Homo sapiens: one gene and its partners. The protein of the gene in region 4 purifies or fractionates together with the protein of the main gene of each other region. This does not show direct contact. Each region holds a gene or a part of one and is shown on either strand. Other genes may lie near its edges.

Region 1 (4,034 bases), on a different chromosome or scaffold from region 4:
GCGGGGAGTGAGGTAGGGGAGGGATAGCATTAGGAGAAATACCTAATGTGATGGGTTGATGGGTGCAGCAAACCACCATGGCACGTGTATACCTATGTAACAAACCTGCACGTTCTGCACATGTACCCCAGAGCTTAAAGCATATTAATAAAAATTAAAAAAAAAAAAAAAAGATTGCTTGTTCAGGAAGTCACAGGCCTTGAACTTTGAGGAGACTCTGGCCAGCTTGCAAAGAGCTGAACAGGAAGGGCAGACCAGTTTAAGAAGCCTGGAGAGACGTGGTTGTCACTACAGGTGAGCTGAGGATGCAGGGACAAGGGAGGTTAAGGCATTCTTAAAATACTACTAAAAAAGAAAAAAGCTCACAGGGAGAGACTGAAGATAAAAGTAAGAAAAGGGAGTAACACTCACAAGGAGAGAGAGGCACTGGGAGTTGGGATTCAGGACACAGCTGGAGACATTAGTCACTGCCCCAAGGAGGCCATCTCTCTATATTTCTCTAAGTTCTCAGTCTAACTTGATTTTTCTTTATAATTCTACCTTATTCATTTATCATACATTTTACAACATATTATGTTTGCTTTTAGTTGGTTTTCTCCCACAAGAATGACAGTTTCAAGCGAGCAAGGATCTGCTCTATTTACCACCTATGAGTATCCAACAAAGTACCCAGACACAGTAGATGCTTAAGAAGATTTATTGGATGACTGGGTAAACACAGAAAAGTCTGTACAGGGGAGATGGGGGAGGACGTGAGGAGATACTTATGACCTCTATTCTCCTGGTAGAATGGGCTACAAAGTCACCTGCCAAACCCGCAAGAGGAAAAGCATTGGAGATCGCTTGCATTGAAGATTACAGTGGGAGTCCGGTTTGCAACCCGGAAGGAAGGAGCTTGCGGGTTGGAGGCACTAAGAGTTTTCAGAAGTTGAGCATCTCAAGAGAGGGCAAGACTTGGAGGTACTTAGAGGACTTGGTAGCTGGAGTACATGGAAGACACTGGATTTGAGACAGTCAAGGAAGTGCGCATCTAGAGCGTCCCCCACATGGACTTTAGGTCTAGAGGAGGAGAAATAGCCCAAGAGCCAAAGTCCCCATGCGATGGGAAAAGAACTGGCTGGAAGAGGACAGCAAGGCTGAGATGCACCCAGGGACGTGGCCAGGTCACCACCTCATTTCCAACTCTACCACCTCAAACAATCTCTGACTGGTATTTAATCACCCTTGTGTGGAAGTGAAAATTAGCTTTTTTTGGAGACAGTACTTTTAAAATTAAACTAATATGAAGTTCATGGGACACGGAAATTTTCTGCATAGATTCATTTTTGTTTTTAGAATAAAATACGATGACATTTTCATGACCTTCAGTAATTGCCCTGCATGGTACGATATTTTCAAACATTATTTTAACAAAGAATCAAAATTTGGGGGTTAAAAGAAACCTTAGATTACTCAGGTTAGTACCTTCATTTGCATAGCCAAAAATTTTTCTATTGAAATACTGCAAATAGCAAATAAGTACTGATTTAGACCTTCAGATAGTGTTGAAACTGTCTTCAATTTTCGAAGTGTGGTTTAGGATATACAAATTAGCAATGTTGACAATTCTTCCAGTTATCTGTGCTCAAGTTTTGATATAAAATCTTCAAAGTACACAATTATCACATATATTGTTCCACAACAATTCAGACAAATAAACGGCTTCTTGGCTTGAAAGAGGAAGTCACACCTTCGAACACCTTTTTATGCTGATGCTAAATATAAGAACGTCCCCTGCAAAGTAGCCAAAGCAAGACAGCAGCATTCGAGATTTCTCCAGAGACACACACACAAAGAATGTGTTTCGTTCATTAAAACACTAAAACCTTCAACAGCATCTTCCATAATACCTGAAGGTGGAGTGCTGTCTTATGTAATAGAAGCCTTCCTTCCCCGCTCAGTTTGTGGACACATTAAATGCCTAATTCCTTCCAGAATTTCTGAGTACCGTACTTTCATTTTACCTGCAGTCACTCATCCGCCTCGCAACTCCCGTTTCTACAGATGATGAAAATAGCAAAGACCTGCTCGCTCGGGTTAAATCGGCTGCCAGAGGCCAAGTTAAAGGCTTTCCCCACACCGCGCGTCACCTCCCTCTGCCCAGGCAGAGGTAACAAGTAAGAGTGCGCCAGTCTCTCCCCATCCGGCGGCGCGCAGCCTAAGTCCGGGGTAGGGGTTGCCGGCGAGCAGCTGGAAACCTCAGGTTCAGGGTCAGGGCCGGCTCGGATGGCCGGGCAGGAGCCACGCCGGCCCCGGTGCTCCCAGCTGCGGGTATCACTGGACGCCACCCCGGGGCGGCCCCGCCTTGCCCTGCCCGGGTCCCGCTCGGGGCTCCCGGCGGGCGGGACCGGGATGCCCGGCGAGCACCCAGCCCCGGCCAAGGCGGCCCGCGGGAGGCTGAGAAAGTTCTCTGCTCCCCGACGTCGGCGCCCCAGGGTCCCGCTGGCCCCGCAGCTTCCCGGCCGGGCGCAAGGTCAGGGAGCAGGGCCGGTGGCGCGCGGAGCCCCGGGGAGCGTCCCCCGCCGAGGGCAGCGCCGGCCGCGCCCGGGACTCACCGCGCAGCCTGTACTCACCGCGCTCGCTGGATCCCCAGGGGGCGGCCGCGGAGGGCGGTGCGGCCGCAACCGGAGCGGGAGCCTGGTCTCGGCGGCGCGGGGAGTCGGAGGACGCAGCCAAGCGGCGGCGGCGAGGAGGGTCACAGCCGGAAAGAGGCAGCGGTGGCGCCTGCAGACGCCGCGCAGCCCGGGCAGCCCCACAGCGCAAGCTGGCTGCCGCGGCGGCGGGGGCTTTATCGGCGGCGCCGCGCGGGCCCCCGCCCCTTCCTGCCGCCCCCGCCCCCGGCCCGCCTTGCCCCGCCTTCCCGCCGCCTCCTTTGTGTGGCCGCGGGCCGCAGCGTCCCCGCGCCCGGCCTCCAGGACGCCCCCTCTCCGCCTGCGACTTCTCGGATGCCGCCCCGCCAGGGGTCCGTGTCGTGGGGCTGCGCCCGGAACGCGCCGGGGAGACGCGCAGACCCCGAGGTGCGGCGCCAGCCCGGGCCCAGCTGCACGTGGGTCTCCCGGATGGGGGTGTGTGAGGTGGCGGGGGGAATACCAGGGCTCGTACCGCGTCCCTGAGACGCAGGGCATGTCGTCTTGGCTGCCCCCTGGAAGAGACAGAGGGCGCCCTGAGACAGCGCTCAGTCCTCCGGGTGATGGGGAAACGGTGCCAGGACGCGGCCGGGAAGGGGCAGATAACCCCTCGAGGCGTTTTGCAGGGTGTCCTAGAGCTGACTTCTCCCTGCCTAGGGGACAGAGGAACGGCGGCAAGTCGCCTTAGGCAAATACAGACGAGGGGAACCAGAAAACTGGATTCCCGGCTATGGTGATAGCATGAGGTACCCGCAGCGTCCTGGGAACCCAGCCCTTCTCAGCCGGTAACCACTGCTGCTGGGACCCGGTGCGCGATAGACAGGCACATACCCCAGGGGCCTGCAACAAATGACCGTCCCGCTCCGGGCTCTGTTACCTGGACCTCTCTTAGTTGGTTCCTCCTTTGCCTCTAGTTAGGTTTCTGGGGACCCAAGGACCCAACTTTAATGACAGTAATTTATGTAGCCGTTAGTGTAGAATCGTCGCTAGCAGGCAGACGGCCCCAACAGCGAGGAAGAAATGTAAATCTCCCTATACACAGCCCTGGATTAAGGGTACAGCTACTGATGAGAGCCACTTGGAAGATCAGCCTGCAGTCACCCCTTGGCATGCAGGTGGCCGTGCCAGAGTGTGCACGTGTGTGTTGGGGAAGGGGTTGCTCTGAAAAGTGTAAAATCTGGACCAGCCTAAGGGTGTTCTCAGTCTCTCATAGAGGGAAACAGGCTATGGGAGGCTTGGTCCTAAAATAAGGAGCAAACAGTCTACAAAAATGAGCATCTGTTTAATTATTTTACAGTCATACCAAATATTTATATTCAGTTACAGGGTAACTTTCTTATTCTCTGTGCCTGAAATGCTTTTTGTCCC
Region 2 (3,500 bases), on a different chromosome or scaffold from region 4:
GTATCCTTTCATCTGATATACCCATTAGCACTGAAAATTAGACTTCTTATGGATAAAGTGTTGCTAACTTATTGATCATTTTTGGTATACTAGAAGCATGTTTATTGCTTCAGAATAAGCACTCCCCAAGCATTAGAAGATGCTCTGTGGAGTGAATATCTCTATCAGGAACAGTATTTGTATCCTTTCATCTGATATACCCATTAGCACTGAAAATTAGACTTCTTACGGATAAAGTGTTGCTAACTTATTGATCATTTTTGGTATACTAGAAGCATGTTTATTGCTTCAGAATAAGCACTCCTCAAGCATTAGAAGATGCTCTGTGGAGTGAATGTCTCTATCAGGAACAGTATTTGTATCCTTTTATCTGATATACCCATTAGCACTGAAAATTAGACTTCTTATGGATAAAGTGTTGCTAACTTATTGATCATTTTTGGTGTATTTTTGTTCTTATGGTTATAGTGGCAATTTACCTTTACATTTTCAAAAAGTATTAAAAAGGATAGCAAAGAAGAAATATATTGCCAGTTACCAAGAGATACTAAAATTGAAGACTTTGGTACAGTACCCAGATCTCGCTATCCATTGGTAGCGCTATTGACCTTAGCTGATGAGGATGACCGGGAAATTTATGATATTGTAAGTAATTGAAAATTTTGAAAGCATTACCTTTAAGTGATTTGAATGGTGGTTCTTCATTATTTGATAAATAGAAAAAGTTTTATTTTAATTTCTGAGGATGTGCATTTGGCCTACAACAACTATATACCTATTTGGTTTTTATATGTGAAACAGTACCTTCAGATTATGACTCATTTCTTGCCTTATGGGTCACAGTAATATGACTTTATTTGGAAAATAAAAGATATATAATGGTTGAATTAAGTTAGTTTCATCATTAACACCTATTTGGTTGTATACACCTATTTAGTTTTTATATGTGTAACAGTACCTTCAGAGTATGACTCATTTTTTGCCTTATGGATCACAGTAATATGACTTTATTTGGGAAATAAAAGATATATAATGGTTGAATTAAGTTAATTTCATCATTCTGTATTCTGTCATATTTGCTGTATAGAAACAGTCTGTTGGGAAGCATGTTTATTCTGAACATGTTTAGCAGTGAATAAATAAGCACAATAATGATCGAAAGTGCTCAATTTTAAGATAGTATCCACTCTTTTTTTGCCTGCTTGCAGTCACCTTGTTTCCATCAAAGTCCCTGCTGCACCTATATCTTATATGTCTGGTCCCTGTATTTTCAGTAATTATAATAATCTCCTTTCCTCATTATGTGCTAATTATTTTTTCAGTCTGATAGTTGATTCCTATTAGGAAGTTAAAAGTATCTTAGAGATCTAAGAGGACTGAAACTTTGACAATCATCTGAGTATAATAGAAACTTAGACATGAAATAAACTTTTGATGAAATTGTATCATGGTAAAAATGTCCTTACACACAATTGACTACTTTTCTGAAGTATTTAATATAGATTATTCATTAATAAACATATGGTAACATTGTTTTGTGATATTCGTAATATGCAAAGTACGTTCACAAACATGAACTTATTTTTTTCTTCTAACAACCTGGTTTCTTAGGACAGGGCAAATATTCTCCTTTCACAGACTGAAACAGAGTCAAGAAAAATCCCAGTCATTCAGGCAGTAAGAGATGGAACAAGAGCTTGACTCTGAGCTTTTTGTGTGTGTTTGTTTGTTTTTGTTTTTTGAGTTTATTTTTTTTAGCAGGAATATCTTCCTGCAACAAGTGTACATTGAGCTTTGGAAGGTAAAGACTCTTTGGGAAATCTAGACCCTTCTTACTCATTTGCAGTTAAGCACCTAGGTTTTTGGTTTTTAATATTTTCAAACTGAAGTTCCATTGAGCTGAGGTCAGCTTATTTTTTCCAAGTCATGGGGAGCAGAGGGGAAGGAAATGGGGATATGTAGGTCACTAGAGACAAAGTTACAGATACATAAAATGAACAGGTCTAGAGATCTAATGTACAGCATAAAGACTATAGTTAATGTGGTATTGCTTTTGGGATTTTTGGTGCTCTTGCCACATGCAAAAAAAGTGGAAGTAACTGTGTAAGATGATGCGTAATTTGCATTATAATAGTAACCATTTCACTAGGTATATATATATCAAAACATCCTGTTGTACACCTTAAATATATACAATAAAAATACAAAATACAAAAGTCATACCAGCAGTAGTGTATTTCCAGAACCTAGTACAGTGCCTAGGATATAATAGGGGTTCAATAAAGATTTGATAAGTAAAAAAAAAAAAAAAAAGTCATACTAGACAATGTTAATGAGCCTCATAGAGCTTGACAGCGAAACACCTTAGCTGTACATCCCATGCACCTTAGCGTGCATGAGAGGCCTTCTGGCTTCCTCCCTCCTTTCTCTCAGTTTCAGTTAGAGATAAATAAAACCTGTTAAATTGGTGTCTCCTATTTCTAGCTTCTTTGTTCTTGACCCTGTGTACTTGGGCAAGGAAGCCCTTCTGCCCCCACTGTGTGCCCCATCTCTGCTGAGTTTCTTGGGTTCTGTTCTCCTTTTTCCTTTGGTTCAGCACAAAAGGATCAGATCGCAGTCATTTTCCCTCCCAGCTTCCCCATTGCATTCCTTTTCCCTTCACTGATAGTGCTCTCTAGGTGCTCAGGGTCTTTTTTTTTTTCTAACTTTCTTCCCCTGTCCAAACAGGGAGTGATTGTGTATCTGTGTGGTAAAATATATATATTTTATATATAAAGTTTACCATTTTAACCATTTTTGTGTGTGTGTTTTCAGTTCAGTGGCCTTTTAGGCCAGAGAAGAGTTTGCTCTCAGGTCCCTGATCACACTGGATGAAGACTGTGTGGCCCAGCTGTAGTTGTGGGAGGCTTGTTCCCATAGGGAAGCCTGAGTGTCTCCCAAGGGTTAACAGCCATCTTCTCTTGTGCTTTGTGTATGTCTCTGTGTCTGGGTCCTTTTGAATGTCTTTTATTCTCATCTGTGGGCTCCCTCCTTTTTTCCTGTTAATCCTTGCTTCTCGTCTTATTTCTTAGATTGGGGGTAATATTGGCACTCAAATATATTTATTAGTGTATTTTGTATTAATGTTCTCTGTTTATAATTTTAAAAGCAAATGGACCATTTCCTATTTCTTTTTCATATGTGTTTTTTCAGTATTGTATGTGCGTGTCAGGGACTATATTTTTTTAAAAAATTTATTAATAAAATCATTTTTATTTTAACAGCAAAGAATTATATTTAGGTAGTACAGTTAGGAACCACTTTGTTGTTTTAGATTAAAAAAAGGAAAGCAGGAATTGTTACTACAAAATTTTGACTTTAAAATTTTTTCATTTTTAGTTAATTACATTGGCTTTTTTTCAGTATTATTCAAATAATACATTTGTGGCAGGAAAAAAAATTAGAAAGTGTAGATAAGCCAAAAGGAGAGAAGTATAATAATCTGTATTCTATCATCCAAA
Region 3 (3,500 bases), on a different chromosome or scaffold from region 4:
GCCTTGTAATCTTAGAATAACGGCCTCTTTGATCCATATGTGGACTGGAGCTCTTGAGGGGAGTGCCTGAGCTGAGGCAGGGGTTCAGAACCTTGGTGCCAGCAATAAGAAAGGCACTAAATCATGGAGGCGATGTTGAAAAGAGAGAAAAATCGAGAGCACCATCGGGGCCCAGGCCAATGCTTAACCTACATTCCACAGAGAACAATGCAACACATACTTAGATGATTACTGAGACACAGTTGGGCAGTTAAGTTTACCAGAAAAGAGTTGAGATACAAACCTTATTGTTAACAATAGCTTCTGAGTCATCAAAGACAAAGTCTCCATCATAGCTGCGTGCAAAACACACAATGGCAACCGATCCCACTACTAACTTAGCCCAGAATGGAGGAAGAACAGAAGATGGAAGAATGTGATCCAAATCAGTGTCCAACACGGCCATTCTGAAAACTGCAGGTTGGTGGCTCCCGGCTCCAGCATTATGCTGGTTAGGAATCTGCAGGAAAAACAACACTGTATAAATATTCATCAACACTGGTAGGACCGTTTCTGCAGTGGGCACCGTGAGTAAGAGCTAGATAGTCATTTATGCTATGATTTTATAGGATGTGATCAGTAACAATTTGAAGCTGTGCTTCCCAAACTTTAGTGGGCAGAAAAGTCACATGGGACACATGCAGATTCCTGGGTCCGACCACAGGATCTATCAAATCAGATGCCCTTTGGTTTCTGATGCCAGAATATCGTTTAGAAATACGAATGTAATGGTATCCTCATCAACCCCACAAGGCAAATCATTTTTAATCGTCCTTGAACCAGTTTACAAAGCTTAAAAAAAAAGTTACCATCCTACCTCATCCAATCCAGAAAAATTAATAAATAGTCATTGTTGGGTTTTAGCACACTGTGTGTGTGGCAGGGGAGAGGGTCGTGTGTAAAACACAACCCTGCTTCTGAAAGAGCTTATGGTCTATTTGTAGCATTCAGGCACACAGGCCAGGGAGCTGAGACTCTGACACAGAGACAGGGGAGTCGAACAGAGAAATCCTAAGGCGGGGCACAGGATCGAATGCTGGGTTCCTAGGCTACTGGCTCAACACAGAGGACAGATAGAGGAAATGACTGGTGGGGACAATATCTTGTCCCAGAAAAGGCTGAGCCATACAAAGGAAAGGAAGGGAGGCTATTCTGTGTGAGGATATGACCTTCAATCCTGGTGAAAGAGTCAAGATAAAAATATATCCTATTTTGAACTTTTCTTTCAAATGGGCATAATGTTTCTCGCCGGGGATGCCTGTGCCTCATCCTTGCCATGTGTTAGTTGTGCGGTCCTGTGCACAACCCCTTTCCTCTCTGAGCCCACCCCCTGCGGCCCTCTGCAAAGCATCTTAACGCCCAGTGGTCAGCGGTGCCTAACAGCTTCCCGCCTTGGAATTCGCCAAAACAAATCTCAACCTACCCCCAAACTCGCACTTTTTTATCTGTCCCCATTCCCACCACATCCTGGACAGGTGCTTTCTTTGGATTTACCAGGATCAGGTTTGGGTAAGACTGCTCGGTTCTGACCTGGGGTACCTCTGGCAACTTACTTGACCTCTCTGGGCCTGTTTCCTCAACACTAAAATGGGGATGGTAAGAGTGCCTACCTTCTAGAGTTGTCATGAGGGTTAAATAGGATTCCCAGCACTGCCTGGCTGTAATGAAGGCTCAGGGGAGGCCGGCTACTATTACTAATACTTTCTTCCAGAAGGCTGAAAGCAGAGGCACAGAATGATTTTCTGTGGGAAATCCCTTTTAGTAGCTGGTTGATTGGTACCGAGGCTCCTGTCTTTACTAAGGGACCTGGACCCTGTTCTTTTCCTGCTGAGATGAAAGAGAATTCCAGCCCCCTGATTGGGAAGGCAGTTTGGATGTATTTGTTTCTGGATCTCTAAGTGGATACCCCAGATTATGGAATCAATAAGAAGCCAGCCAAATAGGCCACCTGAAGTCACAGGCATCTTTCTATAGCCTTCTGTCTGAGTGAAGATGGAGACAGATCCAACAGGCAACGGGACACACCATTCCATGGTGATGCTGTCCCCTTCCAGGGGCCAGAAGGAGGCTCAGATTTACAATCCAGAGATGAAACAGGCCGCAACTCTTCCACTGCTTGTCTCTCGAGCCTCACAGCCTGGCATACGGCATGCTCTCAGCAAGTGCTGGGGGAATACTGCAGCTACTTTTCTTTTCCAGTCAAAGGATAAACCACTTCTCGAATCTAAATTACAACTGCAAACACAACACAGGTTAGCACACAGACCCCAACCTCTATGCTTACATTTCAGCTAAAGAAATTACTCCTGCTACTTAAAAAACAACAAATCAAGGCTGGTTGCAATGGCTCACGCCTGTAATCCCAGCACTTTGGGAGGCCGAGGCCGGTGGATGGCTTGAGCCCAGAGGTTCGAGACCAGCCTGGGCAACAAGGTGAAACCCCGTGTCTACAAAAAAAAATACAAAAATTAGCTGAGTGTGGAGGCGTATGCCTGCAGTCCCAGCTACTCAGGAGACTGAGAGGTGCGAGTATTGCTTGAGCCCAGGAGTTCCAGGCTGCAGTGAGCTGAGATCACACCTCGGCTCTACAGCATGGGCAACAGAGTGAGACCCTGTCTCAAACAACAACAAAGCCCAACAAAGCCAAATACTGAATAGTTAGGAAGATACTATGATTTAACATGGGGAGAAATTTTAGAAAATTAAATGTGAAGGAAAACAAATAATTTATAGCAATTTTAAATGCACAATAGAGTCATGAGCTGACAAAAGGTCATGTAACCGGTTTTGACGTTATCTGTTTTATTGTTTCAATAGTGAATTTATTGGCTCATGCAATATATTTTTGGAGATGGCGTCTTGCTATGTTGCCCAGACTAGCTTCAACTTTTGGGCACAAGTAACCCTCCTGCCTCGGTCTCCCAAGTAGCTGGGACTATAGGAGTGTGCCACTGAGCCTGGATATTATCTGCTTCAGGCTCAAATATTTGAAAATTATTTCACAAACGTTTGTCAAGGTTCAAATGGCCTTCTAAGTAGAATACTAAATCAGGAAATACTTTGTGCTCCTAAATTAGCGACTGTACCTCAGATTGCTTAGAACATAAACGTGTTCTAAGCAATATGTTCTAAGCATAATCATGTTCCAAGCCACAGCCCCAGGATATATAAGGCAGACTGTGGACCACACCATCAACGAGATGCCCTGGTAGGAGGCCAGGTCCAGACTCTTGGGAAGTCAAGTGGATGGCTGACTCAGTGGATCTCAGATGATCTCCTCCTCTGCTCTTGCAGGGACAGCAGGAAACCTGGCCTACCTCCAACGCCCCTGCCCCTACATCATTTCCCAGTTCTGGCTGGCTCTCCCCTCCTTGCTGTGACTCCCCTGCTTCTCTATCTCAGGGGGCTCCTTCTCCTTTCTCCAAGGCCTCCCACTTCTTTGCTGCCACTGAAAATACTCA
Region 4 (3,500 bases):
ACCTGTAATCCTAGCACTTTGGGAGTCTGAAGCGGTTAAATCACCTGAGGTCAGGAGTTCAAGACCAGCCTGGCCAACATGGTAAAACCCTGTCTCTACTAAAAATACAAAAATTAGCCAGGCGTGCTGGCGGAAGCCTATAATCCCAGCTACCCAGGAGGCTGAGGCAGGAGAATCGCTGGAACCTGGGAGGTGGAGGCTGCAGTGAGCCAAGATCGCACCACTGCACTCCAGCCTGAGCGACACAGCGAGACTCTGTCTCAAAAATAAATACATAAATAAATAACAGCACTAGATAGCATTTATTTAGCCTTTACTGTAGGCTAGAGCAGACACTACATTAAGTACTTTACACATATTATCACATTCTAATCCTTACAACAATCCTTTTATCTTCGGAAATGGAAACACAGTGAGGTGGGCAGATCACTTGATCTCAGGAGTTTGAGTCATCCTGGATAACATGGTGAAACCCCGTCTCTACTAAAAATACAAAAGAATTAGCCGGGCATGGTGACATGCGCCTGTATCAGCTACTCGGGAGGCTACTCCCAGCTACTCAGGAGGCTGAGGCGGAAGGATCACTTGAACCCAGGAGGCAGAGGTTGCAGTGAGCTGAGATCCTGCCACTGCACTCCAGCCTGAGCGACACAGCCAGACTCTGTCTCAAAAAAAAAAAAAAAGAAAAGAAAAGAAAAGAAAAGAAAAAAAAAGAAATGGAAACACAAAACAAGTAACTTGCCCAAGGTCACATATCAAGGACAAGTTTAAATATAGGTCTGTTCAACTTCTAGGTCCCCTGAATTCTGCTGTCCTCCACTTTAGGGACTGTAATTTTCTTTTTTCTTTTTGAGACAGGGTCTCACTCTGTCACCCAGGCTGAAGTACAGTGGCGTGATCATGCAGTCTCGACCTCCCAGGCTCATGATCCTCCCACCTGAGACTGCTAAGTAGCAGGGACTACAACTGTAATTTTCTTTTCTTTTTGCTTTCTGTTTTTTTTTTTTTTTTTTTTTTTGAAATGGAGTCTCGCTCTGTCGCCCAGGCTGGAGTGCAGTGGCATGATCTCGGTTCACTGCAAGCTCCACCTCCTGGGTTCACGCCATTCTCCTGTCTCAGCCTCCCAAGTAGCTGGGACTACATGCGCCTGCCACCACGCCCGGCTAATTTTTTGTATTTTTTTTTTAGTAGAGACAGGGTTTCACCGTGTTAGCCAGGATGGTCTGGATCTCCTGACCTCGTGATCCGCCCGCCTCGGCCTCCCGAAGTGCTGCGATTACAGGCGTGAGCCACCGCGCCCGGCCTTCTCTGTGTTTTTAAATTTTAACTACAATGAGTATGTATTACACATATAACTTGTTTTAAAAATTAAAGGAGGAGGCCGGGTGCGATGGCTCACGCCTGTAATCCCAGAACTTTGGGAGGCCGAGGCGGGCGGATCACAAGGTCAGGAGATGGAGACTATACTGGCTAACACGGTGAAACCCTGTCTCTACTAAAAATACAAAAAAAATTAGCCGGTCATGGTGGCAGGCGCCTGTAGTCCCAGCTACTCGGGAGGCTGAGGCAGGAGAATGGCGTGAACCCGGGAGGCAGAGCTTGCAGTGAGCCGAGATTGCGCCACTGCACTCCAGCCTGGGCGACAGAGCGAGACTCCGTCTCAAAAAAGAAAAAAAAAAAAAAGTAGAGAAGGAAGGGGCATTCCCTGAGCTCACTGGGCATACCAGGGAACCTGAGCCCTAGGAATAAGGACCTAGAATAGAGAAGTACTCACCATTGATGATGGTATTGTTGACCCAGATAACCTGCCCATCTGGCAATACCTTTTGGCTTCCAGGGAAGTTCAAGGCAATAGAGAAGGAGGCATTTGCACCAATCAGTGTAGGCCCATCATTACTGACCTTGAGGGACACTTGACCACCTGGGAAGGAAAGCTACATTAGCTGGGACTCCTGGGCTTCCCCTCCCTGTATACGTTTCCCCTCCTTTTCTTCCCAAGCTACACTCGATGCAGTTCAGCTTGCTTTTTTCCTCATCCCACTCCCACCATGCCCTCCCCTGGAACTTCCAAGTTCCTACCTCTCCAGCAGTCAAGTCTCTGGGCTTCTGTCCACTCTGGATACAGCTGCCTGTTCCAGGCTTTGGTTCTGAGTTGCCTTGAGACACCAAGCCAGTCCTGGTTTCTGGGTACTAAAAGGAATGTGCCATGAAGGGCCCTAGGATCCTTTCAGTTCCTTCTCAGGGATAACACTCTATTCATGTCACTCCATTCATTCTCACATTCGAAGTGCATTTTTTTTTTTTTTTTTTTGAGATGGAGTTTCGCTCTTGTTGCCCAGGCTGGAGTGCAATGGCATGATCTCGGCTCATTGCAACCTCTGTCTCCTGGGTTCAAGCGATTCTCCTGCCTCAGCCTCCTGAGTAGCTGGGATTACAGGCATGTGCCACCATGCCAGGCTAATTTTGTATTTTTAGTAGAGATGGGGTTTCTCCATGTTGGTTGGTCTGGTCTCGAACTCCCGACCTTAGGTGATCTGCCTGCTTTGGCCTCCCAAAGTGCTGGGATTACAGGCGTGAGCCACTGCGCCCGGCTGAAGTGCATTTTTAAAACTCATTTATTTGGCCGGGTGTGGTGGCTCACACCTGTAATCCCAGTACTTTGGGAGGCTGAGGCGGGTGGATCATGAGGTCAAGAGATAGAGACCATCCTGGCCAACATGGGGAAACCCTGTCTCTACTAAAAATACAAAATTAGCCGGGCATGGTGGTGCGCACCTGTAGTTCCAGCTACTTGGGAGGCTGAGGCAGGAGAATTGCTTGAACCCGGGAGGCAGAGGTTGCAGTGAGCTGAGATTCTGAGATTGCACCAGTGTACTCCAGCTGGCGATAGAGTAAGACTCCATCTCAAAAAAAAAAAAAAAAAAAAAAACACAAAAAACCCCTTATTTATTTGTTTATTTATTTATTATTACTCTTTTTTTTTTTTTTTTTTTTTTTTTGAGATGGAGTCTCGCTCTGCCCCCTAGGCTGGAATGCAGTGGCGTGATCTTGGCTCACTATAGCCTCCGCTTCCTGGATTCAAGCAATTCTCGTTCCTCAGCCTCCCAAGTAGCTGGGACTACAGGCACCCACCACCACACCCAACTAATTTTTGTATTTTTAGTTTCGCCATGTTTCATGGTTTCTCCATGTTGGCCAGGTTTGTCTCAAACTCCTGACCTCAAGTGATCCAACCGCTTCGGCCTCCCAAAGTGCTGGGATTATAGGCGTGAGCCACTGCGCCTCGCCTGTTTTGTTTTAAATCAAGACATAATTCACATACCATAAAATTTACTTTTAGCCAGGCATGGTGGCTCACATCTGTAATCCCAGCACTTTGAGAGGCCGAGGCAGGTGGATCACAAGGTCAGGAGTTCGAGACCAGCCTGGCCAAGTGAAACCCTGTCTCTACTAAAAATACAAAAATTAGCCGGGCGTGGTAGTGGGCACCTGTAGTTCCA
Region 5 (3,500 bases), on a different chromosome or scaffold from region 4:
ACACACACACAGAAAAGTATGGCACTATAACAAACATGGTTTTAGTTATGGTGTATTTTCTACAACATGGTTTAGTGGAAAAGATTAAACTAGGCCTCAGGAAACTAGGTTCTCCTTGCAGCTCTACTATTTATTGGCAACACAAACTTGGACAAATCACTTATGCTCTCTGTGCCTGTTTCATCATCCACAAAATAGGATAAATTCACTCTGCCCACCTCTCTGTCCACCTTGTGCCCAAAATAAAAAAAATACAGATGGAGGCACTCTGAAAACCACAAAGCAACACAAATGTTAATATAATTAAATGTGTTTATTACGGAGAAGGGGCTTGACTTTGTGACTACAACTTTGTGCAAAAAGGTCTAGACGTTAGGCCTGTTTATAGAAGGTAGTTAAAGAAAATGTAGCTTTGGGCTAGCAATGTTCTGCTTTTAGTACACATCCATTTTGAGACCAGGCAAATAGAGGTTTAGTGAATATGAGATCATTTGCAAAATCTACCAGAGAAGAAAATGATTTCCCTTTAGGAAGAGATAATACCAGTTTTTCTCTTGCAAACCTATTCTGAGTTGTTACAGGTCTCCTGTCAAAATAAGCATGAAAGCACCAATGGCCACTACACACGACAGGTATGCTACTTTACAAACGACAGGTATGCTACTTTACAATCACCCTGCCCCTAGAAAAGCTTAAGAAACTTTATGTATTTTAACTAGAGAGGTGGTCTCATAACTAAAGATGAGATTCAGCAGAGAAAAGCAAAGATATTTCAAATGACTGTCAGGAACTTCCTGGCTCCTTGGGCCTTGGTCTTCCCTCCTGTTAACCGATTCCAGCCATCAGCAAAAGGAGCCTCTAGGAAGCTTCTGAAGTTTGATTCATAATCAAGGTGAGTTTCAACGTTCAGTCTTTCGCCCCAAGCCCTTCTCGCCTCATCTCTCCTGTTTCCAGGCTCAATCACTGGTTTTATTCTTGGGTCCTAGTCTCTGTGGCCTACATTTTTTCTTTTGTTTTTGGCCACATCCTCCGTTTCTGGTCCTTGATCTTCACTGTTCATTTCCTGAGCCTCCACTTCCACTTATCTGCCTTGCCTGCCCGTCTTACCTGGCTAGTTTTACCTGTGTCCTACCACCTGCATCCTACTTTGCTACTCTAAATTCCTAGATGTTGCATTTGCCTGAAACCTAGAACCTATTTCTTGTCCTGTAAACTTAGAACCTATTTCTTGTACAACCTGGTCCTGACTGGATTCTGAACACAGTGCTTATTCTATCTAGCTGAATTTCAAGTCTTTATATTTTTCTCCAGTCTGTTTACCCATCCAGTTTCTACTGGACATGCCTCTTCTCAAGGCAGAAACTCAACTGCTTTCAGTATCGCCAGCCTGCCCTAGTGTAACCCTCAACTCTTGGGGGAGAGAAAAAGAGAGGGATAAACCACCACTACTGACCACTGAAGCAAGAAGTAATGTTTTCAGGACAATTTTTTTTTTTTGAGACAGGGTCTCATTCCCGTCGCCCAGGCTGCAGTGAAGTGGCACATACTCGGCTCACTGCAGCCCTGATTTTCCGGGATCAGGTGATCTCCCACTTTAGCCTCTCAAATAGCTGGGACTACAGGTGCGCCACCACACCCAGCTAATTTTTTGTATCCTTAGTAGAGATGGGGTTTCACCATGTTGCCCAGGCTGGTCTTAACTCCTGAATTCAAGTGATCCACCTGCCTTGGCCTCAGCCTCCCAAAGTGCTTAGATTACAGGTGTGAGCCACTACACCCAGCCTCTTTCAGGACAACTTTATATGCAGTCTACTGGCATGCCTAGGTGAAAATAAACTAAATGACTGAAAATGTTAGTATTTTGACCCTTATAAATTCAAAAGGCAGAGAGAGCATTTTGGATGGGACAGATGGCAATTGAAAATAAGCTTGTTTACCTTGTGAGAGTCTTTCCCCCTGGGGACTGATAAGTTGTGGCTTCTGGGTCATTGCATTCCAACACTGAGGCTTCCCTGGCAACACCCCTAGTCCAAGGTAACCAGGATAGAGCTCTGGAAACCACTCCAGCCCCATGCAGCTGCGAAGAGTCTTCCTGCCAGCAGCTGCAGCATGATTGGTGAAGGGGCTCTGAGGAGTGTGACGCTGGGCTGAACATAAAGGGCTCTGGCACCCAGTGTGTGATGCTTGGAACTGACTATCAGATTTGGGCTCCAGAGATAACTGTCCCTCGGGACTCTCCATTAATGCCTTTACATCAGGGACACAATGATGATTCTGGGCTTCTGCTTTCTTTTCTTGAAGAAATGTTGTAGCTAGAGAGGCAAGACTTTGACTACTTGACTGCGATACAGAATGAAACTGGTAAGTCGTCTCCCTCGGAATGAACAAACTTAAATGTGGTCTTTCCCCTTGAGACTCCTTTCCTGTGACTGAATCCCTGGTGTTGAAGTTCTCACAGCCATGGCTCATGACAGTCCGTTCCTGCTTTTCTGTTGCAGACATACTTTTCTCTGCATTTCCTTTGCTCCCACACGTCTCTACTCCCAGGGTAAGTCCTTTCTCTTGTTTCTCCATGACTTGGATTTTACCTAATGAGCTCATTTTAAGGCTTAAAATGAGGGATTCTGTGTTCTTTTCTGGAGTCTCAGTAACTGTAACATCAGTAGGGACTCCTGAGAGGTGATCCCTGCCTTTGGAATCTCTCTCATTGCTTAATAATGTTCTTACCCTTTTAACCCCATCACTGACATTCTTTGGAGAAATATGACAATCACCAGTAGGCACATCTAGTAATTTTACTAGAAGTTCCTGTCTTTGGGGATCAATTTTGTCCAATTTGAGATCACCAGAGGTAGTTTGTACATCATTAGGTAGAGTTGAGGAATATTTTCTATCTTGATTTGACAAAGAAGGTTCTATTGAGCCAACCAGTAAAGACGCTCCAGCTTCTGAAGGATTACATCGACTTTCTCCTGATTTAGGCAAATCTTTGGCAAGTTCTCTTTTAGGAGAGGTTTTCTCTGATGCGTAAAACTGAGCCTTGGTTTCTTCTTGGAAAGTAGTCATTGGTTTAGTATTTTTTAACATTTTGAAGGATGGTTGGATTGGATTCTTGATGTCTTTATCTGCCTTTGTAGTAGCTGCTCTTTCCAAACCAACAGCTGGCAGTGGAAAGGTCTTCACTGTCTGTTCTGGTTTGTCCACCACCAACTTAGAATTTCTTTCTTCATTCTCTGTCTCTAACTCTTTCCCTTTAGCTTTAATTAAATCTTTGATTGGTCCTTTCATCTTTTTAGCACGTGGGAGTGTAGCTGGCTTGGACTGATAAACTTTTTGATCAGTAGGTATGGTTGGTCCTATCATCTTACAGTATGGCAAGTGGGATTTTAATCGTTTAAATGGCTTCTTACAGTAAGGACACACTTCCATTCTGGGTGGATTATCACTCATCCTATTCCTGAAAAAGGTAAATGTGAGATTATGAGAAGCACATAGTTTGT
Region 6 (3,500 bases), on a different chromosome or scaffold from region 4:
ATGCACTGGAAGACAATATTATAAAGTTACCAATTTCTTACAAACTAATCTTTATATTCAGTGTAATCCCAATCAAACTGTTAAATTTGACAAGCTGATTCTGAAATTTATATAGAATTGTCAAGGACTAACAAAGTATGAGTATTCCAAATATATAAAAAATAACTATGAATCAACAGAAAAATAGGCAAGAGACCTGAATAGCCATGTCATAAGAGAAAATCCAAATGGTCAATAAACATATTAAAAAGGTGTTCAATTTCTTTAATAATCAAGGAGCTACACATAAAAAGTACAACTTCTAAACTGGTAAAAAACGTAAGTCTGATAATTCTATGTGTTGGTACGGATGTGATTAATGGACGCCCTCATACACAGCAGGAATGTAAACTGGTTCATTGACTTTGGAAAACAGTTTGACATCATCTGTTAAAACTGAAGATACGCATTTTCTGTAAGTCAGAAATTTCATTCCCAGGTATACACTCTAAAGAAATTTGCGTGTGTGAACTGGGAGACAAACAGAAGAATGTTCTGCACTGTTTGCAATAGGCCCATGCGGAAATAACCCATCGAGAGCAAATAAACTGTGATACATTCATACAATGGGATAGTACATTACAATTAAAGGGGAAAGACATGGATGAGTCTCACCAGTGTAATGCTGAGCAAAAGAAACAAAAACAAAGCTAAACAGTATTCTTTAGGAAGACATGTGAAGAAGGTAAAAGAAGAGCAAAGAAATTATTATCATGAAAGTCAAAATGGTGGTTTGCTTTTGGAAGGTGTAAAGTTTCAACCAGGAAGGACCACGCAAGGGAAGGAGGCAGGGTTCTGTGATCCTGTAATGTTCTATTTCTAGCTGGATGGTAGTTGCATGGGTTTTCACTTAAAAGTATTTAAAATATTTATACATTTTACATACTTTTCTCACTTAAAGGTATTTAAACTATTTATATATTTTACATACTTTTCTGTATGTATGATCTATCTCACAATAAGAAAAAAATGAGAAGGAATAATACTGTGCTTCTCACTCATCTTTCTAAATAACTGGGTTTGGTTCTTTGTACAAATTCTCTAAAATGACTAAAGTGGCTGGGCACATTCTCTTCTTGGAAAGATAGCATTATTTAGTAGAAAAAGCAATAAGACTAGGGATCAGAGGACAGAAGCTCTCTTAATTAAATTCTTAATTTACTTCTCTTAAGATGCTCTCTTAAGCATATTAAGTCTCTCTGAACCCTAACTGCTTATCTATTAAATGCAGATTTAACAACTGCCCTTATCTTGGGATATCTGTGACTATCAAATCATAATATAGTAAATTAAAAGATGTTTAGAAAACAACAAACAAACAAACAGAAAAACAAACACAGCAGTTTAGTTTTAATAATCTGAAATTCAAAGATTTTTAATCCACTGGAGTCATGATGAAGCTGAGAGATAAAAACTACCGTTCCATTTTAAATAGCATTATTTGCAAAATGGTGTTATTTCTATCGGTAATGGGTAAACAAACAGGGTTCTATTTTGAGAAAAAAATAAACATAAAATATTAATTTAACCTAACAGATGGTAAGAGATGGTGTCAAAGATGCACATTAAAAGTCTAAAGAGTGAGATCTGCTCTTCTGTTTACAAAAGAAGACTTAGGAATGTCTTCAGCTCTCCAGGAAGAGAGAAATATATTTCCCAAGTTGCCCATCCAGCCCTACCTCCATTACAGATAACATTCAGCCCCTAAATTTTTCTCCCCAAATTGACTGAAAAATACAAGAATAAAAAAACCAAACCAATGTAATTGGGCTTCTCAATTAGCCTTAGTGCCACTATGGGAGAATGAACAAGCAACTGAGTGGCAAGTTTCACTGACTAAAACAAACATTGAAGTATAGAAGTTTTATGTATTTATTGTGCCACTTATAAAATAACTGCCACAAACATCAACAATGCTTTTAGAAGTTTTTCATATTCAACCACTTAGAAGATGACAAAGACAATATAAAAATGCAAAACATTTTACTATATTATAATGTTATATTATTTTTTCTATATAAAATGTTACAAGTTCTACATACCTGAATATTCTCCCTACTCCAAGTATGTGGTGTTTTATTAGCAAGTAATTTCAGATCTTGAATAGCAAGTCTCTTTACTGCCTTCCTGGGATCATTCTTCAAATACTGCAACAGAAGCTGAATCTATAAAGGAAATAAGTCACTCCATAAACAATACTGTAACTGAAATGATCATTAGAAATGCAGTGTAGTTTAGTGAAACTTATAAAGGGACAGGACTCACTTCAAATCAGAGCCCTGTCACTCACTAGCTATGTGCCCACATTTGGGCCTCTTTCTCCATGTTTGTAAAATACTACCATTTAACTTTAAAGTTTTAGCACAGGCCCTGGCATTTTACAGATACTCAATCCTTTCTTTTTTTTTTTTTATACGGCCAACTTCACACCCAGCCATGTACTCCATAACATCTCATTTTCCTCAAGGGCTCCCAACAATCAGTACTGTGAACAGAGAGAATAAAAAAGCAAGCAAAAGCAAATTAATCTGACCTTTATTAGAGAAAAGAACCTTAATGTCCTCAAGACTTGTGGGCCACTTTCTTATTTCTAATCATATATTTAATATGTAAGTTTACCAAAGATAGGCAGTTTAAAGAAAATTGAAATTACCTGCTTAGGTGTATCAACCAAAGATGACGCTGCAAGCAGAGTGAAAGTGTGCAAAGACACAATCACCATTTTGGTGGACGGATAGGATGTGACCAGCTGTTGTAAAAGCTGACGAGCACTGGAAGCCAAGATTGCATCATGGTGCATGTGCTGTAGAATGGGTATCAATTTTAGCTTCAAGTCTACTGGTGTCGCTAAACCTAGACACAAAAATAATTCTCAAGGTATTTGTGATCACCATCCTTAATAATATTCCAGATTTAAAAGCTGTGACTCATTTAGCAAAATTGCACTTGAAAAACACAGTATACTAATATATTTATAACATTAAAGATTATACTAGAACCAATTGATAAATTCAATATTTTTTCCTAAGTATTTATCTTGACATTAACTTTTCAATGATTATAAAACTACATGCTGATAATAAAAACTGCCTTTAAAAAGCACAGTAGAAAGCAAAGTCATATTTGCTGCCTATTTCCTCTCATTGTCATAGTAAAAAAATTATACATACACATATACATATATATACACAAACACACACACTTGATGGCTACAGTCTGATTATACTTATGATTTTAATTATTTCCTTCAACAACTAAATCATAATCAGGATGTGAATAAACTGTGTGTAGAATGGTTTCGAAGTCCTCTGAACTTTGTGTAGTAAATGCCTTTCTTTATTGCATACACGACTGGATCCATGAAGACTAACCCTAATCCACGTTTTCCTGTCAACAGTGGAGCGAAACCAACAAATCTTTTCTCTATGGCATGGCTTTGTGGTCATGGTGAACACAAATTT
Region 7 (3,500 bases), on a different chromosome or scaffold from region 4:
TTCGGACCTATGAGTATTTTGCTGAATTCCGCTTCGTGTGACCACTTGGCGCTATAGTGAGCAGCAGAGCAGCAGCCAAACCTGAAGCAGAAAAGGAGAGACAGCTCCCACGCGGCCCCAGGGCTGACCCCGCGCTGCTCCTGCCTGCCCACCACACCCACCACGCCGCACTCACCGCCCCGAGGCGCCCTCCTCCTGCAGGTGGATGATCCTGCCGGGAGGGTAGAGAGGGGGGTACTTGGGAGAAGAGTCCAGTGGGGAGTCGCTGGAGAAGCTGTAGGCCGGGGACCAGCGCGTCAGTAGGCTCTGCTCCCCCAGAAGAGGCTGTGTCAGGACTTCCTGGTCGCCCCCGTCCAGCTCCGTGGGCAAGTTGTTGGGGTTTCCTCCAAACAGTTCGTACCACAAACCGTGCAGCAAGATCTTGTACTGAGGGCGAGACCCAATCAGTAGAATGCTGTCACTCACCCTCTGTCACCCGAGACCTCCCGAAACACCAAGGCGGACCAGGCACAGGAATCTGCCCTTTGACCCAGAAACCCCGCTTGGAAGACTCCAGCAAAGATGCACCGGCGAGCTGTGCTGGGTGGCAGCCACCTCGGCTCAGGACAAGGCTCTATGCCTAGTCACAGATCATGAGTGTGGGCTCTCTCTTGGGCAGTAAAACCATCACACGTGGAGCAATATTAAAAACTAAGCCATACAGACTGTGAGGGATATTTCCCTTAATTATTTTCCGGCAATTCTGGAAATCAGCTTTACCCTTCCTTCCCTGAAAGGCATTAGATATTAATTTCTATGGGCTGGAGCGCAATGGCGTGATCTTGGCTCCACAATCTGCCTCCCGAATTCAAGCGATTCTCCTACCTCAGCCTACTGAGTAGCTCGGCTTACAGGCTCCTGCCACCATGCCCGGCTAATTTTTTGTATTTTTTTTTTTTTTTTTTTTTTGAGACGGAGTCTCACTCTGTTGCCCAGGCTGGAGTGCAGTGGCACAATCTTGGCTCTCTGCAAGCTCCGCCTCCCGGGTTCACGCCATTCTCCTGCCTCAGCCACCAGAGTAGCTGGGACTACAGGCACCCGCCACCGCACCCGGCTAATTTTTTGTATTTTTAATAGAGACGGGGTTTCACCGTGGTCTCTATCTCCTGACCTCGTGATCCACCCGCCTTGGCCTCCCAAAGTGCTGGGATTACAGGCGTGAGCCACCGCGCCCGGCCTAATTTTTTGTATTTTTAGTAGAGACGGGGTTTCTCCATGTTAGTCAGGCTGGTCTCGAACTCCCGACCTCAGGTGATCCACCCACCTCAGCCTCCCAAAGTGCTGGGATTACAGGCGTGAGCCACCGGGCCCGCCCTAGATACTAATTTCTAAAAAAAATTTTAGGCTGGGCACAGCAGTGGCTCACACCTGTAATCCCAGCACTTTGGGAGGTCAAGGCAAGCAGATTGCTTCAGCCCCGAAGTTTGAGACCAGCCTGGGCAACATGGTAAGACCCTGTCTCTACAAAAAATACAAAAATTAGCCAGGTGTGTTGGCGCATGCCTGTAGTGTAGCCCCAGCTACTCAGGAGGCTGAGGTGGGAGGATCAGTTGAACTTGGGAGGCTGCAATGTGCCGAGACTGCGCCACTGCACTCCAGCCTGGGTGACAAAGCGAGACCCTGTCTCAAAAAAGAAAAAACTGGGGGAGGTAATTGGTAAGGAGAAAAATTTAAATTGCGTTTCTTCTTTCTGATTAGGAACAAAACCATGAGAAAGGTCAGAAAACAAAGGGATTAAACAAGTAAAAATCATCTCTACCGACACTAAACAAAACCACCCTTGGCATACGTATTTTCAAATTTTTGTCAAAATTCATATATCTGTATCTCCTTGTCCCCACTCTCTGCCATGAGTCATATCTCTTAAGAATAATTTTTAAGTTTTTTTTCTTTTGAACTTTTCAATGGATATCTATCTTTATCGGCAGACAGAAATTTCTTCTTTTTGGAGACAGAGCCTCACTCTATCCAACAGGCTGGAGTGCGATCTTGGCTTATGCAACCTCGGCCTCCTGGGTTCAAGCGATTCTTCTGCCTCAGCCTACCAAGTAGCTGGGATTACAGGCACTCACCACCACCCCTGGCTCATTTTTGTATTTTTACTAGAGACGGGGTTTTGCCATGTCGACCACTCTGGTCTCGATCTCCTGACTCAGGTGATCTGCCTGCCTTAGCCTCCCAAAGGGCTGGGATTACAAGCGTGACCCACCGCGCCTGGCCAGCAGACATAAATTTCTACCACCATGTTAAAAAACCCTTGACGTGGACATATATCACCATTTTAATAACTGCATGATATCCACAGTGTAGATAAATGTGCCTGTACCTCTTAAGGTCTATTTGGCAGCCTTGCTTTCTAAGCTTTCGGACAACAAAGCCAAAAGGCATTAACAAACTGTTAGTCACAAGACAGGACTAAGAAGTTTGTCAGAAAGCAAAATCAAACAGTTCCTCCAGAGTATTTTCTTTTCTTTTTTTTTTTTTAGAATAGAGACAGGGTCTTGTTGTGTTGCCCAGGTTGGCCTCAAGGGATCCTCCTGCCTTGGCCTCCTGAGGTGCTGGGATTCCAGGCATACACCACTGCTCCCAGCCCAGATCCTGTTTCCTCCCTGTGACATTTCCCGCACTTGCTGCAGCCATTTGCTTTCTTAGACATCACAGAGTCCTAGCCCAGAATCTGATCAGATGGTGGAAGGAGAACTTCCAGCAACAGCATAGAGTGCCCTGCACTGAGGGTGCAATTCCTCCCGGCTCTCCACAGGATCTCAGGGACAGGCCCCGTGTCCTGCTGACCCTCTCAACAAGGCACCCGCTTACCTTGGGTTTATTGCAGTGCGCGACCACTCGCAAGATTCTTCTCTTCAGATCTTCCAAGTTGGTCACACTGAGCCTGTTTAGCAAAGGGGCACACTGAGGCTGGGACCTGGCACTCCCAACCCCCCAGCCCTGGGCACAGCACCAGGTGGGCTTACCTGGGAATCACATCCTTCCCCAGGACGAGTGACACGATGAAGCTCTGAGAATATTCCTGCAGAGCTTTGCTGAAATTCCAAACAGAGAGAGGATGTTAGCTTTACGATGACACTGCCCACAAGGGCTTCCATGAAAGAAATCAGTAACACTGAGGGGTTAGGTTCCCAGGCCTCAGCTCTGTTCTCTCTTCTCTAAAGGGAGGGTAGGGGAAACGTCAGTTATGGCAACTCACTGGCCAGATCCTACTAAAGCCACAATATGTGTTCAACAGAGACGCCCCGCAGCTAAAACCGCAAACTGGACACCAAGGCGGACCAAGCACATGGATCTGTCCTTTGACCCAGAAACCGCGCTTGGAAGACTCCATCAAAGATGCACTGGAGGCCGGGTGCAGTGGCTCACGCCTGTAATCCCAGCACTTTGGGAGGCCGAGGCAGGCGGATCACAAGGTCAGGAGATTGAAACCATCCTGGCTAACACGGTAAAAG

The links.
Region 1: the proteins of PMEL (region 4) and SERPINE2 purify together in Homo sapiens (affinity purification with mass spectrometry; 2 studies listed by BioGRID and IntAct, with this or other methods). This does not show direct contact.
Region 2: the proteins of PMEL (region 4) and CGRRF1 purify together in Homo sapiens (affinity purification with mass spectrometry; 2 studies listed by BioGRID and IntAct, with this or other methods). This does not show direct contact.
Region 3: the proteins of PMEL (region 4) and TMTC4 purify together in Homo sapiens (affinity purification with mass spectrometry; 2 studies listed by BioGRID and IntAct, with this or other methods). This does not show direct contact.
Region 5: the proteins of PMEL (region 4) and MTNAP1 purify together in Homo sapiens (affinity purification with mass spectrometry; 2 studies listed by BioGRID and IntAct, with this or other methods). This does not show direct contact.
Region 6: the proteins of PMEL (region 4) and INTS7 purify together in Homo sapiens (affinity purification with mass spectrometry; 2 studies listed by BioGRID and IntAct, with this or other methods). This does not show direct contact.
Region 7: the proteins of PMEL (region 4) and DAGLB purify together in Homo sapiens (affinity purification with mass spectrometry; 2 studies listed by BioGRID and IntAct, with this or other methods). This does not show direct contact.

What each region holds. Positions count from the first base shown.
Region 1 is NC_000002.12:224,036,487-224,040,520, forward strand, and holds the start of SERPINE2 (glia-derived nexin isoform b precursor), read right to left. Parts: upstream 2,801-4,034; 5' UTR 2,613-2,800; intron 2,155-2,612; exon of another isoform or gene 2,018-2,154; coding exon of another isoform or gene 2,004-2,017; intron 1-2,003. UniProt on the Homo sapiens protein: Serine protease inhibitor with activity toward thrombin, trypsin, and urokinase. Promotes neurite extension by inhibiting thrombin. Binds heparin.
Region 2 is NC_000014.9:54,530,406-54,533,905, forward strand, and holds part of CGRRF1 (cell growth regulator with RING finger domain protein 1), read left to right. Parts: intron 1-497; coding exon 498-645; intron 646-3,500. UniProt on the Homo sapiens protein: Able to inhibit growth in several cell lines.
Region 3 is NC_000013.11:100,668,296-100,671,795, forward strand, and holds part of TMTC4 (protein O-mannosyl-transferase TMTC4), read right to left. Parts: intron 2,275-3,500; 5' UTR 2,068-2,274; coding exon 2,065-2,067; exon of another isoform or gene 1,988-2,064; intron 500-1,987; coding exon 284-499; intron 1-283. UniProt on the Homo sapiens protein: Transfers mannosyl residues to the hydroxyl group of serine or threonine residues.
Region 4 is NC_000012.12:55,959,543-55,963,042, forward strand, and holds part of PMEL (melanocyte protein PMEL isoform 3 preproprotein), read right to left. Parts: intron 2,191-3,500; coding exon 2,080-2,190; intron 1,922-2,079; coding exon 1,775-1,921; intron 1-1,774. UniProt on the Homo sapiens protein: Forms physiological amyloids that play a central role in melanosome morphogenesis and pigmentation.
Region 5 is NC_000017.11:73,235,433-73,238,932, reverse strand, and holds part of MTNAP1 (mitochondrial nucleoid-associated protein 1), read right to left. Parts: intron 3,458-3,500; 5' UTR 3,451-3,457; coding exon 1,938-3,450; coding exon of another isoform or gene 1,837-1,937; exon of another isoform or gene 295-1,836; intron 1-294. UniProt on the Homo sapiens protein: Critical regulator of mitochondrial DNA (mtDNA) abundance. Binds dsDNA throughout the mitochondrial genome without sequence specificity and controls mtDNA copy number by promoting its replication.
Region 6 is NC_000001.11:212,004,558-212,008,057, forward strand, and holds part of INTS7 (integrator complex subunit 7), read right to left. Parts: intron 2,893-3,500; coding exon 2,693-2,892; intron 2,205-2,692; coding exon 2,082-2,204; intron 1-2,081. UniProt on the Homo sapiens protein: Component of the integrator complex, a multiprotein complex that terminates RNA polymerase II (Pol II) transcription in the promoter-proximal region of genes.
Region 7 is NC_000007.14:6,409,955-6,413,454, forward strand, and holds part of DAGLB (diacylglycerol lipase-beta), read right to left. Parts: intron 3,081-3,500; coding exon 3,012-3,080; intron 2,930-3,011; coding exon 2,857-2,929; intron 427-2,856; coding exon 176-426; intron 82-175; coding exon 1-81.